Regions from separate parts of the Homo sapiens genome. Here region 2 is linked to region 1. The links come from fine-mapping of genetic effects on gene expression. A gene starts in region 1. The other region holds a variant in brackets. All regions are shown on one strand. Distances are from middle to middle. Region 1 holds the start of C12orf43 (chromosome 12 open reading frame 43). Region 2 has its middle 4.2 kb from the start of OASL.

Region 1 (5,375 bases):
GCCAAGTTATTTTACCATTATGAGAATCAGTTTTCTGTAAAATGGGGCTAATACACCCTCTTGTGGCATTGCTGGGAAGATGAAAACAGACAACAAATACAAAGTGTTTAGAACAGGGGCAAAAAGAAAATTCTCAACTCCTGGTGGCTATTACTAGACGCACTCAAGAATGTAATCTAGGCTGGGTGTGGTGGCTCATGCCTGTAATCTCAGCACTTTGGGAGGCCAAGGTGGGCGGATCACCTGAGGTCATAAGTTCGAGACCAGCCTGGCCAACACGGTGAAACCCTGTCTCTAATAAAAATATAAAAAAAAATTAGCTGGGCCTGGTGGTGGGCACCTGTAATCCCAGCTACTTAGGAGGCTGAGGCAGGAGAATTGCTTGAGCTTGGGAGGCGGAGGTTGCAGGGAGCCAAGATCGCGCCATTGCACTCCAGCCTTGGTAACAGAGCGAGACTGCGTCTCAAAAAGAAAAAAAGAGACCAGGCGCGGTGGCTCACACCTGTAATCCCAGCACTTTGGAAGGCCGAGGCAGGTGGATTGCCTGAGGTCTGGAGTTTGAGACCAGCCTGGCCAACACGGTGAAACCCTGTCTGTACTAAAAATACAAAAAATTAGCTGGGCGTGGTGGCAGGCGCCTGTAATCCCAGCTACTAGGGAGGCTGAGGCAGGAGAATCACTTGAACCCAGGAGGCAGAGGTTGCAGTGAGCTGAGATCGTGCCATTGCACTGCAGCCTGGGCAACAAGAGTGAAACTCCATCTCAAAAAAAAAAAATGCAAAAAAAAAAAAAAAACCCCAAAAAACAAACAAACAAACAAAAAAAACTAGAAGCCGAGCACAGTGGCTCACACCTGTAATCTCAGCACTTTGAAGGTTGAGAAGGGAGGATCACTTGAGCCCAGGAGTTCGAGACCAGCCTGGGCAACATGGCAAAACCCCATCTCTACAAAAAATACAAAAAGTAGCTGGGACTATACATCTGTAGTCTCAGCTACTTGGGAGGCTGAGGTGGGAGGATCATCTGAGTAGGGGGAGGTCGAGGTTGCAGTGAGCCATGATTGTGTCAGCCTCGGTAACAGACTGAGTCCTAGTTTTGAAAAAAAAAAGAGCGAGAATTAGGCAGGAGGAGGAAAGCAGTCCATGTGGAAAGACCAACCACATATTTGCCACCATGTATTGGGCCTTTAAGATGTGCCAAGCACTGTAGATTGCATTATCTCAGTTACTTCTCAACCTTATGGGGTGGGTACTATCACTACCCGCACTGTACAGATGAGGAAATTTAGGTACAGTGAGATTTAAGTACTTTGCTCAAGTTCCCACCGCTAATGAGATGGAAAGGCAGATCTGTAAATAGAACTTGCAGAGAAAACTGTGGTTATGGTACTAGGGGGTGAGAGGGGCAGACTATGGTCTGGAAGCTACCTACAGGAAGTGCAGTATGGCAGGAGGGAAGGAAGGGAGAGGAAGGCAATGGATCACCAAAGGGCTTGTAAGTCCTTTTAAACAAATCCAGCGGTTCTTAACCTTGCTTTGCCATAGCCTTCTCTAACAGCCTGGTGAAGCCCGGTTCTCTTCTCAGAGCAATGTTTTAAATGCATGAAATGCAACATACAGGATTACAAAGAAAACCAATGATACCGAAATTTAATTATCATGATAGTAAACAACCAAACTTGTGATGTATGTGCTTCTTACATCTTAGATATAGAGATGGGTCTAAAAATTAGAGTGGCACATTTTAAATCAGGGATGAGTGTAAATGACTTTTTTCCCCAATATCTTTTTATCAATAAAATGATATATTGATATCTGTATCTGCAAAGATTGTAATGAGATATGAAAATCTGTGACTTCTGTTGGGATAAAGTAACGGCATTGCCAGAACTACTGTGGCTTAGTGCTTGCAAGACGGAAAGAGATGCTAAAATTCAGTCAGAGATGAATAGAAAGCAAAGATGCAACATGTTTTCATTCCAAATTCAAGAACCCTTGGGTTCTATCCATGATTAGGCCCCTTGATGTTGCGGGGCTCTGTATTTATTCCCAGGGCACTAGGGAGTCACGGTCAGAGTGATGTGCTGGGCACTGCTCTTGGCAACAACCTCCAGGGTGGGAGAATGTGTTGGAGGTGGGGAAAGGCTGGGTGCGAGAATACCGGGAGGGGGCTGTTGCAGTTATCTCGAAGAGACGGCAGCCTTCCCAGTGTGGGGCAGTGAGGATAGACCCAAGGAGGCAGAATCAAAAGACATTTGGGTACCTCAGCTTCCCCGACTGGAATAATGAAATACCCTCCCTACTGCACCTGCCCATGCTTTCAATCTGCACTACACCCAGTCCCTGGAGGTCTCTCGGGGAAGGAAGCCGAGTCCCAGTGACTCTCTCCTCACCATCCATCCTCTCAGGCTCCAGGGGAAGATCCCACGCCCCTCAGCCAGTCTCCCCAAACATAGTACCCTACCGGCTCTTGGCTTCCCTGCCACGTGCGGGCGTTGCTCCAAGCCCCAAGCCGGCATTGCCGCCTCGCGGCACCGCTCCAGCTCCTCCGCATCGCTACTGCTGTTACTACTTTCCGAATCGCTCACTGTGCCACTGGGCGCCGCCATCTTGAACCACCGCAAAGGATTGTGGAGAACACCGCCGTTATCAAGCCTCCTTCATGACGTCACGTGAGAGGAGAGGCGCGAGGCATTGTGGGGATTGTAGTTCCAAGACTTGGACCGCCATTGGCCATGAACTGTACTGGGTTGGGGATACCAGGTGGGAATGGGGAGGTGGGCGGTTCTCAAAGGCAAGAGCTAGAAGGGCCTAAGAGATTAACTTCTCCAATCATTTCTTGATGACAGATCTCCAGAGGGGATGGGAATCTCCTAAGGAGTTAATGACAGACCCAGGATTAGTTCCCAGGTTTTGATTCCATGTCATTTATTCTAGTAATTTCCCAGTCCAGCTGGGCCTAAGAAACACCTTAGAGAGCTGGTTAAACTGCAGACTTTTGGGTCTCACAGAAAATACTAACAGAATCAGAATCTCTGATAGGTGGAATCCAGGAATCTGTATTTCCTTTAATAGCCTAGGGCCTTACTACTTAAGAGTGTAGTCCATGAGCCAGCAGCATTGGTAACACCTGGGAGCTCGTTAGAAATGCAGAATCCAGGCTGGGCACGGTGGCTCACGCCTGTAATCCCAACACTTTGGGGGGCTGAGGCAGGCAGATCACAAGGTCAGGAGTTCGAGACCAGCCTGGCCAACATAGTGAAACCCCATCTCTACTAAAAATACAAAAATTAGCTGGGCATGGTGGCACGCACCTGTAGTCCCAGCTACTCAGGAGGCTGAGGCAGGAAAATCACTTGAACCTGGGAGGTGGAGGTTGAGGTGAGCCAAGATCGTGCCACTGCACTCCAGCCTGGGCAACAGACTGAGACTCTGTCTCGAAAAAAAAAAAAGAGAAATGCAGAATCCTGTCCGGGCACGGTGGCTCACATCTGTAATCCCAACACTTTGTGAGGCCGAGGCGGGCAGATCATGAGGTCAGGAGTTCGAGACTAGCCTGACCAACATGGTGAAACCCCATCTCTACTAAAAATACAAAAATTAGCCAGGCAATACTGACTCCCAGGACCCATCCAAGACCAAAAAATTAGAATCTCTGTGGTTAAAATACCTCACAGTGAAGGATGAACAAAATCACTTTACTTTTGTGTGTGGAATGCTGTTTCATGTTTTATCTTTGAAGACAGGTATGTCAAAACTTTACTAAAATAAACTCTCTGGCCTTGAGCTTTTTCTATTTCAAAGAAGAGGAAGGTGACTGATATGGTCTGAATGTGTTCCTCCAAAATTCATATGTTAAAATTGACACCATAAAATAAATAACAGAGAGACTGACTCTCCAAAATAAAGCGTTTATTCCAGAATTGCAAGGAATTGCAATTTGAGATATGCATGCTATAGTGGACTATAGGCACATTAAAAGAGGTTGTGGCAACGAGAAAAGACAAAGTCCACATAAGCTTCTTTAAAACAAGTACCGTTGATCACAGGAGCCTGTTGCAGGAGTTGGCTTTAGCTTATTGTGGAGACACCCACTGTTAGGCAAATATTCTTATGCAAGTGGTTTATCTATAATACTGCGGATTTTAGGAACTTCTTGAGATAATTTTTGTGACAGGCATTTGTTAGGGTTTGACATAAGTGACTCCATTTTGATACTGATAATTTCCAAAAAGTCCTTACTCCCAAGGTGATGGTATTAGGAGGTGGGACCTCTGGGAAGTAATTAGTGAAAGGGTCTTGTGTTGGTTCGAACCCCAAGAGCGTGGCCAACAGACAACATGAGGCAGTGTGTGTGCAGGTGGGCTGAGGCTTAAAATGGCGTCAGCACCAAATGAGGACGGGGCAGGGGTTTTGTAGTCTCCTGTAAACAGGAAGTTTCTCAGTCTGTTGTAACCGCTACATTGTACCCGGATGACGTCTCTCTCGGTCTTCAGGGGGTAGGTGTCTTCTGGCCCGCTCTCTTCCCGCTTCTGCTATCTTGCTGACACATGCTGCTGGCGCGAGTGGCCTTGCGCCTTGGGACCGGGCCCAAGGAGGGAGGGGAGGGAGGGGTCATTCATTCTCTTAAGCTTTCAGGCCCCACGGAGAATCTTTCAATTACATAATGGGTCCTGAGCCCTCATGAACTGGATCAATGCCTTCATAAAAGAGACCCCAGAGGCCAGGCATGGTGGCTCACAACTGTAATCCCAGCACTGTGGGAGGCCAAGACAGGTGGATCACAAGGTCAGGAGTTCGAGACTAGCCTGGCCAAGATGGTGAAACCCCGTCTCTACTAAAAATAAAAAAAAAATTAGCTGGGCACAGTGGTAGGTGCCTGTAGTCCCAGCTACTCGGGAGGCTGAGGCAGGAGAATCGCTTGAACCTCGGAGGCAGAGGTTGCAGGGAGCTGAGATCATGCCAATGCACTCTAGCCTGGGTGACAGAGCGAGACTCCATCTCAAAAAAAAAAAAAAAAAAAAAAAGAAGCGATCCTAGAGACACCTTTGCCTCTTCTACCATGTGAAGACTTAGTGAGAAGCTGCCATCTGTGAATCAGGAAGAGGTCCTCACCAGACACCAAATCTGCCAGTGTCTTGACTTGGACTTCCCAGCCTCCAGAGCTGTAAGAAATAAATGGTTATTGTTCATGAGCCATCCAGTGTATGGTATTTTGTTTTAGCAGCCCAGATGGACTAAGACATTGCATTTTTCATTCTTTTTTTTATTTTAAACAAGAATTTTCCCACCACCTACAATGTGGGCTGTGCTGGGCATTATGAAGGACACAAAGATGGGGACTGGAACAGCCTGTCTACCTCCTGGAAAGGAGGC
Region 2 (5,375 bases), 27 kb after region 1:
GTGAGGATGATTGCAAGGGCAAGAACAGATGTAGGGAGATGGTCAGGACACTGCACAGTGGTGCAGGTGAGAGGCAGTGGTGGCCTGGAGTTTAAAACTCCAGTTTTTGTTTTAAAAACAAAAAGTTTTTTAAAAAATAGCTAGGTGTGGTGGTGTCCACCTGTAGCCCCAGCTACTTGGGAGGCTGAGGTGGGAGGACCACTTGAGTCTAGGAGTTTCAGGCTGCAGTGAACTATCATGGTGCCACTGCACTCCAGCCTGGGTGACAGCATGAGACTCTGTCTCCAAATAAAAAATAAAAAAGACTGGCACTCCAGCCAGGAGGATGAGGGTACAGCATAGAGGCTGAGAAGTATAAATAATGCTAGGATATGCCAGGGACTCAAGTGTGCTGTGTGCCTTGGGATGAAAGGGTGAGCAGGGGAGAGGTTAGAAATGTACCTGGACAGGTGGGCAGGATTGAATCTTGGAGTGCTATTCACTCATTCGTTCACTCATTCAACAGATACTTACTGGGCACCTACTCTGTGCCAGGCAGGTGCTGTGGATACAACAGTGAACAAACAGTAGTGAAAAATCCCTACCTGCAGATAGTTTTCTTTCTGGTAGTGGAGACAAACAACAAATAGGATAAATAGGTAAAATTATAGTAAAGAAGACGGTGATAAGTGCTAAGCAGAAAAACAAAGCAAGAGAAGGGATTAAGAGGTTGTGTGTGTGTGTGTGTGTGTGTGTGTGTGTGTGTGTGTGTGTGTTGGGGGCATGTATTTAGGTTTCAGTCTTACATAAGGTGATTAGGGAAGGCCTCCCTGAAAAGGAGACATCTGAGCAAAGACATAAGAAGGTGAAGAGTTTGGGAGGCCAAGACGGGTGGATCACAAGGTCAGGAGATCGAGACCATCCTGGTTAATACGGTGAAACCCCATCTCTACTAAAAGTACAAAAAATTAGCCGGGCGTGGTGGCAGGCACCTGTAGTCCCAGCTATTCGGGACGCTGAGGCAGGAGAATGGCGTGAACCCAGGAGGCAAAGCTTGCAGTGAGCCAAGATTGCACCACTGAACTCCAGCGAGACTCCGTCTCAAAAAAAAAAAAAAAAAAGAAGGTAGAGTGAGCCACGTGTGTAACAGAAGGAAGAAGATTCTTCATGGCAGAAGGAGTGGAAAGTACGAGGACCCTGTGGTGGTACTGCCCGGTGGCAAGTATAAGGAACATCAGTGTGCCTGGAACGGAGTGATCAAGAGCAGAGAGTGGAAGGGAATGCGGTTTAAGTAGTAAAGGGTGGCAAGGCAAATAGATACAGGATCCTTTTTTTTTTTTTTTTTGAGATGGAGTTTCACAATTGTTGCCCAGGCTAGAGTGCAATGGCACAATCTCGGCTCACTGCAACCTCCACCTCCCAGGTTCAAGCGATTCTCCTGCCTCAGCCTCCTGAGCAGCTGGGATTCAAGGTGCCCACCGCCACACCTAGCTGATTTTTGTACTTTTAGTAGAGACGGTGTTTCACCATGTTGGCCAGGCTGGTCTCTAACTCCTGACCTCAGGCGATCCACCCGCCTCGGCCTCCCAAAGTGCTGGGATTACAGGCGTGAGCCACCGCACCCAGCCAGGATATAAGATCTTTTTAAAAAGATTTATTCCATAAACAAGGAGCAGGAGTGGATAGGATCTTGAAGACGACTGTTAGGAGTTGGCTTTACTCTGAATGAAATGGGGAACCACTGGGGAGCATTTTTTGTTGTTCTGTAGGAGTCTGACACCATACATTGGAGAGTTTTGAGTGGAGGAGTGACACGGTCTTTCATTTTAATGGAATTAATCACATTGGCTGCTGGGAGGAAATTAAATTAGAAGCAGAGGGTGGAGTGGAGGTGAAAGTGGAGGCAGAAGTATGGTTAGGAGGCTACTGCAACAGTCCAGGCAAGAGGTCAGTTGACTTGGATCAGAGTGGTAGCAGTGAAATAGTATGTTTTAATTTTTCTGATTTTGGAACATTTCAAACAAAGTGGAATAATACAATGAACCTCCATGTACCATCACCAGTTTCAACAATGATCAACTTATAGACAGTCTGGTTTCAATTCTACCCCCATCCCTAGATTCCCTACTGTGTTATTTGGAAGTGAATCTGGACATCATGTCATTCCGCTGGATATATTTTGACTCCAAGGCTGACAGGTCTTGCTAATGGGTAGAGTATGATGAGAGAGAAAGATCAGAGTCAAGGTCTAAGTCCGGGGCTTTTGGCCTTAGCAACAGAAAGGTTGAACTGCCCTTAACTGAGGTGGGATAGGCTGGGCATGGAGATGAGGAAGGAACTCAGTTTTGGAACTGAAGTTTGGGGTGTCTGTCAGAGACCCAGGTGGAGATATGTGGTGGGGAGTTGGATATGCGAGTCTGTATTACAGGGAGGAGGTCTGGACTTGAGATAAAATGTGGGGGTCACCGGCATAGGGATGTTTAAAGCCATGACACTGAATGAGATCACCAAGGGAGTGATGACACAGCAGGAAGAGAAAAAGACCCAGGACTGAGCCCCAGAGCACTTAATATTATTCGGAGTTTAGGGAGTTGCACGAGTCCAGCAAAGAAGAAGGAAAAGAAGTAGCTAGTGAGGTGGAAGAGAAATCAGGAGTGATGGTTTGAAGGCCAAGTGAAGATATTGTTTTAAGAAAGAGGAAATGGGATGGGCATGGTGGCTCACACCTGAAATCCCAGCACTTTGAAAGTCAAGATGGGAGGATCGCTTGAGCCCAGGAATTCAAGATCAGCCTGGGCAACATGGCAAAACCCCATCTCTACAAAAAAATACAAAAATTAGCCAGGTATGATGGTGAGTGCCCATAGTCCCAGCTACTCAGGAGGCTGAGGTAGGAGGATCACCTCAGTCCAGGGAGGTCGCGGCTGCAGTGAGCCATGATCATGCTACTGCACTCCAGCCTGGGTGACAGAGTGAGACCCTGTCT[CAAAAAAAAAAA/C]AAAAAAAAAAAGGAGAAGAAGAAGAAGAAGAAATGGAAATGATCCACTGGGTTAAAAGAGTGCCAGGTGAATCTGCTTTTTGTCCTGAGGGCAGTGGCAAATTTAGGGGAGTGGCATGTAGTGGAGTTAAGATTGGTCTGGCTGCTTCCATGGTGAGGACGAACCGCAGAGGGCAAGGGCAGATGCAGGGAAATGCATTAGGACACTTCGCAGGGGTGCAGGTGATAAGCAGTGAGGCCCAAGACAAGGCTGGAAGCAGTGCAGGTGGAGAAGAGGGGTTGGATTCTAGGTCTATTTTGGAAGAAGGGTGGGCAGGGCTTCTTGTTGACTATAGGTGAGGGGCAAGGAGAAGACAGGGATGACTCCCAGCTCTCTGGCTTGTGTCCTTGAGTAACTGTTGGAGCCACCATTCCCAAGGAGAGAAGGAGGAGTGGGTATGGCTGTGGGGAGTTCGAGGGGTGCATTTTGGATAATGATTTGGTAGTACCCAAGGATGAGAAGCGAGTGACCTGCTCCATGTAAAGACATATTTGATTTCCCTCAGTATACACGTGGTCACTGGTACCTTGGGGAAGAATGAATCACACCAAAATGAACTAATGTAGAGACAGAGTCTCGTTCCATCTCCCAGGCTGGAGAGCAGTGGTGCAATCATAGCTCACTGCAGCCTCGAACCCCGGCTCAAGCAATCCTCCCACCTCAGCATCCCAAAGTGCTGAGATTGCAGGCATGAACTGCTATGCCTGGCCAAGCCCCAAATTTAAGTGATGAGCAGAGGAAGAGAAATTTAGGCGGTACCTGCTGGGGTGGCCAAAGAGGTGGGCATAACCAGAGTTAAAAAAAAGTCACCCACATTGCTGAATGCTTCTGAAAAGTTAAGAAATACAGACCTGAAAAGTACTCAAGAAAACGACTGGTGATCAAGGTGGGCACAGTTTTAGGCGAGAGGAGGGAGCTGAAGCCAGATTAGGCTGGGTGGGGTCGGGGGCATGGAGACCAGAAGTGCAGATGATTCTTTCAAGGAGTTTGTCCATCATGACACATTCCAATTTAACTTTTCAAACTGGCTAACCCCAAGTGGAAAGCATCACATATTTTAATTACATAAATTATAAAAGTTCTTATATTTCCAGTGTTTGGTAGTACCTGATCCTTCAGCAATACCATATTATGAGGATTTAAAGAGCAGTGACAATTTCACAAAGCTAAGTCAACAACCGGTTAAGACTCCAAACATTTGCCATATGGTTACGATGACTGACAATGAACTTCAAGGCAATATAGAAGTTATTCAAACAATAAACATTCAGACCTTAACCTATTGGTTTTTTATTCGACTTCGTGAAATCTCTGAGGGTTACATAGCTTTCAATTATTTGATCATTAATATGTTGGATGACATTTGAGGATTTCAAAAGGGAACATGAAATCAGTAATGTGTTGGTTTTATGGTTTGTTAAAATACCACCCAGTTGAGCAGGCATCTGCAGGGAGGGAGAAGAGCCAGTGGATAGGAAGGGGCTGAGCTAGGTTTTGAGCAGGAGAAAGAGACACAAAGATGAGTGTTGTCTTAGCTTGGATTCCCCTCAATGCAGAGCATGAGACAAGGGGTTGCATGAAGGTGGTTTGTTCTGGGAAATGATCTCAAGGGGTAAGTGTGGGGGATTAGGAAGCAGAGAAAGCCAATCTGAGGAACTCTTTCTCTTTTTCTTTCTTTCTTTCTTTCTTCTTTCTTTCTTTCTCTTTCTTTCTTTCTTTCTTTCTTTCTTTCTTTCTTCCTTCCTTCCTTCCTTTCTTTCTCTTTCTTTCTGTCATCTCTCTCTCTCTCTTTTCTCTTCCTTTTTTTTTTGATGTTGTCTTGCTCATTCGCCCAGGCTGGAGTGCAGTGGCATGATCACAACTCACTATAACCTCGACCTCTTGGGCTTAAGTGATCCTCCCACCTCAGCCTCCTGAGTAGCTGGGACTACAGGCACAAGCCACCACACCTGGCTAATTTTAAATTGTTTTTTGTTGTTGTTGTTGAGACAGGGTCTCACTATGTTGCCCAAGCTGGTGTCGAACTCCTAGGCTCAAGTGATCCTCCCACCTCAGCCTCCTGAGTAGGTAGAGCTACAGGCACCATGCCTGGTTAATTTTCAGAAAATTGTTTGTAGAGATGGGGTCTTGCTACCTCAGACAGGGCTGAGATAGGAGGATCTCCTGAATGTGGGAAGTCAAGGCTGCAGTGAGCCCTGATCACTCCACTGTACTCCAGCCTGGGCAAGGGAGTGAGACCCTGTTTAAAAAAAGAAAAAATTGTCCATCTGAGAGGTAGAAGAGGGGCCACTGGTTCTGGCCTTCCCCTTGGTTATGGGTTGCTCCATTGGGTGTTAACTCCCTTGAACTTGCAGGTTTG

The links. PIP is the estimated chance that this variant, and not a neighbour inherited with it, causes the effect.
Region 2: its variant is the best candidate, but not a certain one, in a credible set for the expression of C12orf43 in whole blood (INTERVAL, PIP 0.52).

The regions. Positions count from the first base shown.
Region 1 is chr12:121,013,867-121,019,241 of GRCh38, forward strand. It overlaps C12orf43 (chromosome 12 open reading frame 43), which reads right to left and starts at 2,621. Exons shown (of 6, transcript NM_022895.3): 1 at 2,464-2,621. The coding sequence starts at 2,608. OASL (2'-5'-oligoadenylate synthetase like) reads right to left here. Exons shown (of 6, transcript NM_003733.4): 6 at 5,245-5,375. RefSeq lists enhancers at 1,800-2,315, 2,287-2,796 and a silencer at 2,524-2,717.
Region 2 is chr12:121,040,803-121,046,177 of GRCh38, forward strand. No RefSeq gene overlaps it. Among named protein-coding and RNA genes, the nearest start is that of OASL, 4.2 kb to the left of the region's middle. The variant CAAAAAAAAAAA/C (reference allele first, on the strand shown) is at 2,966.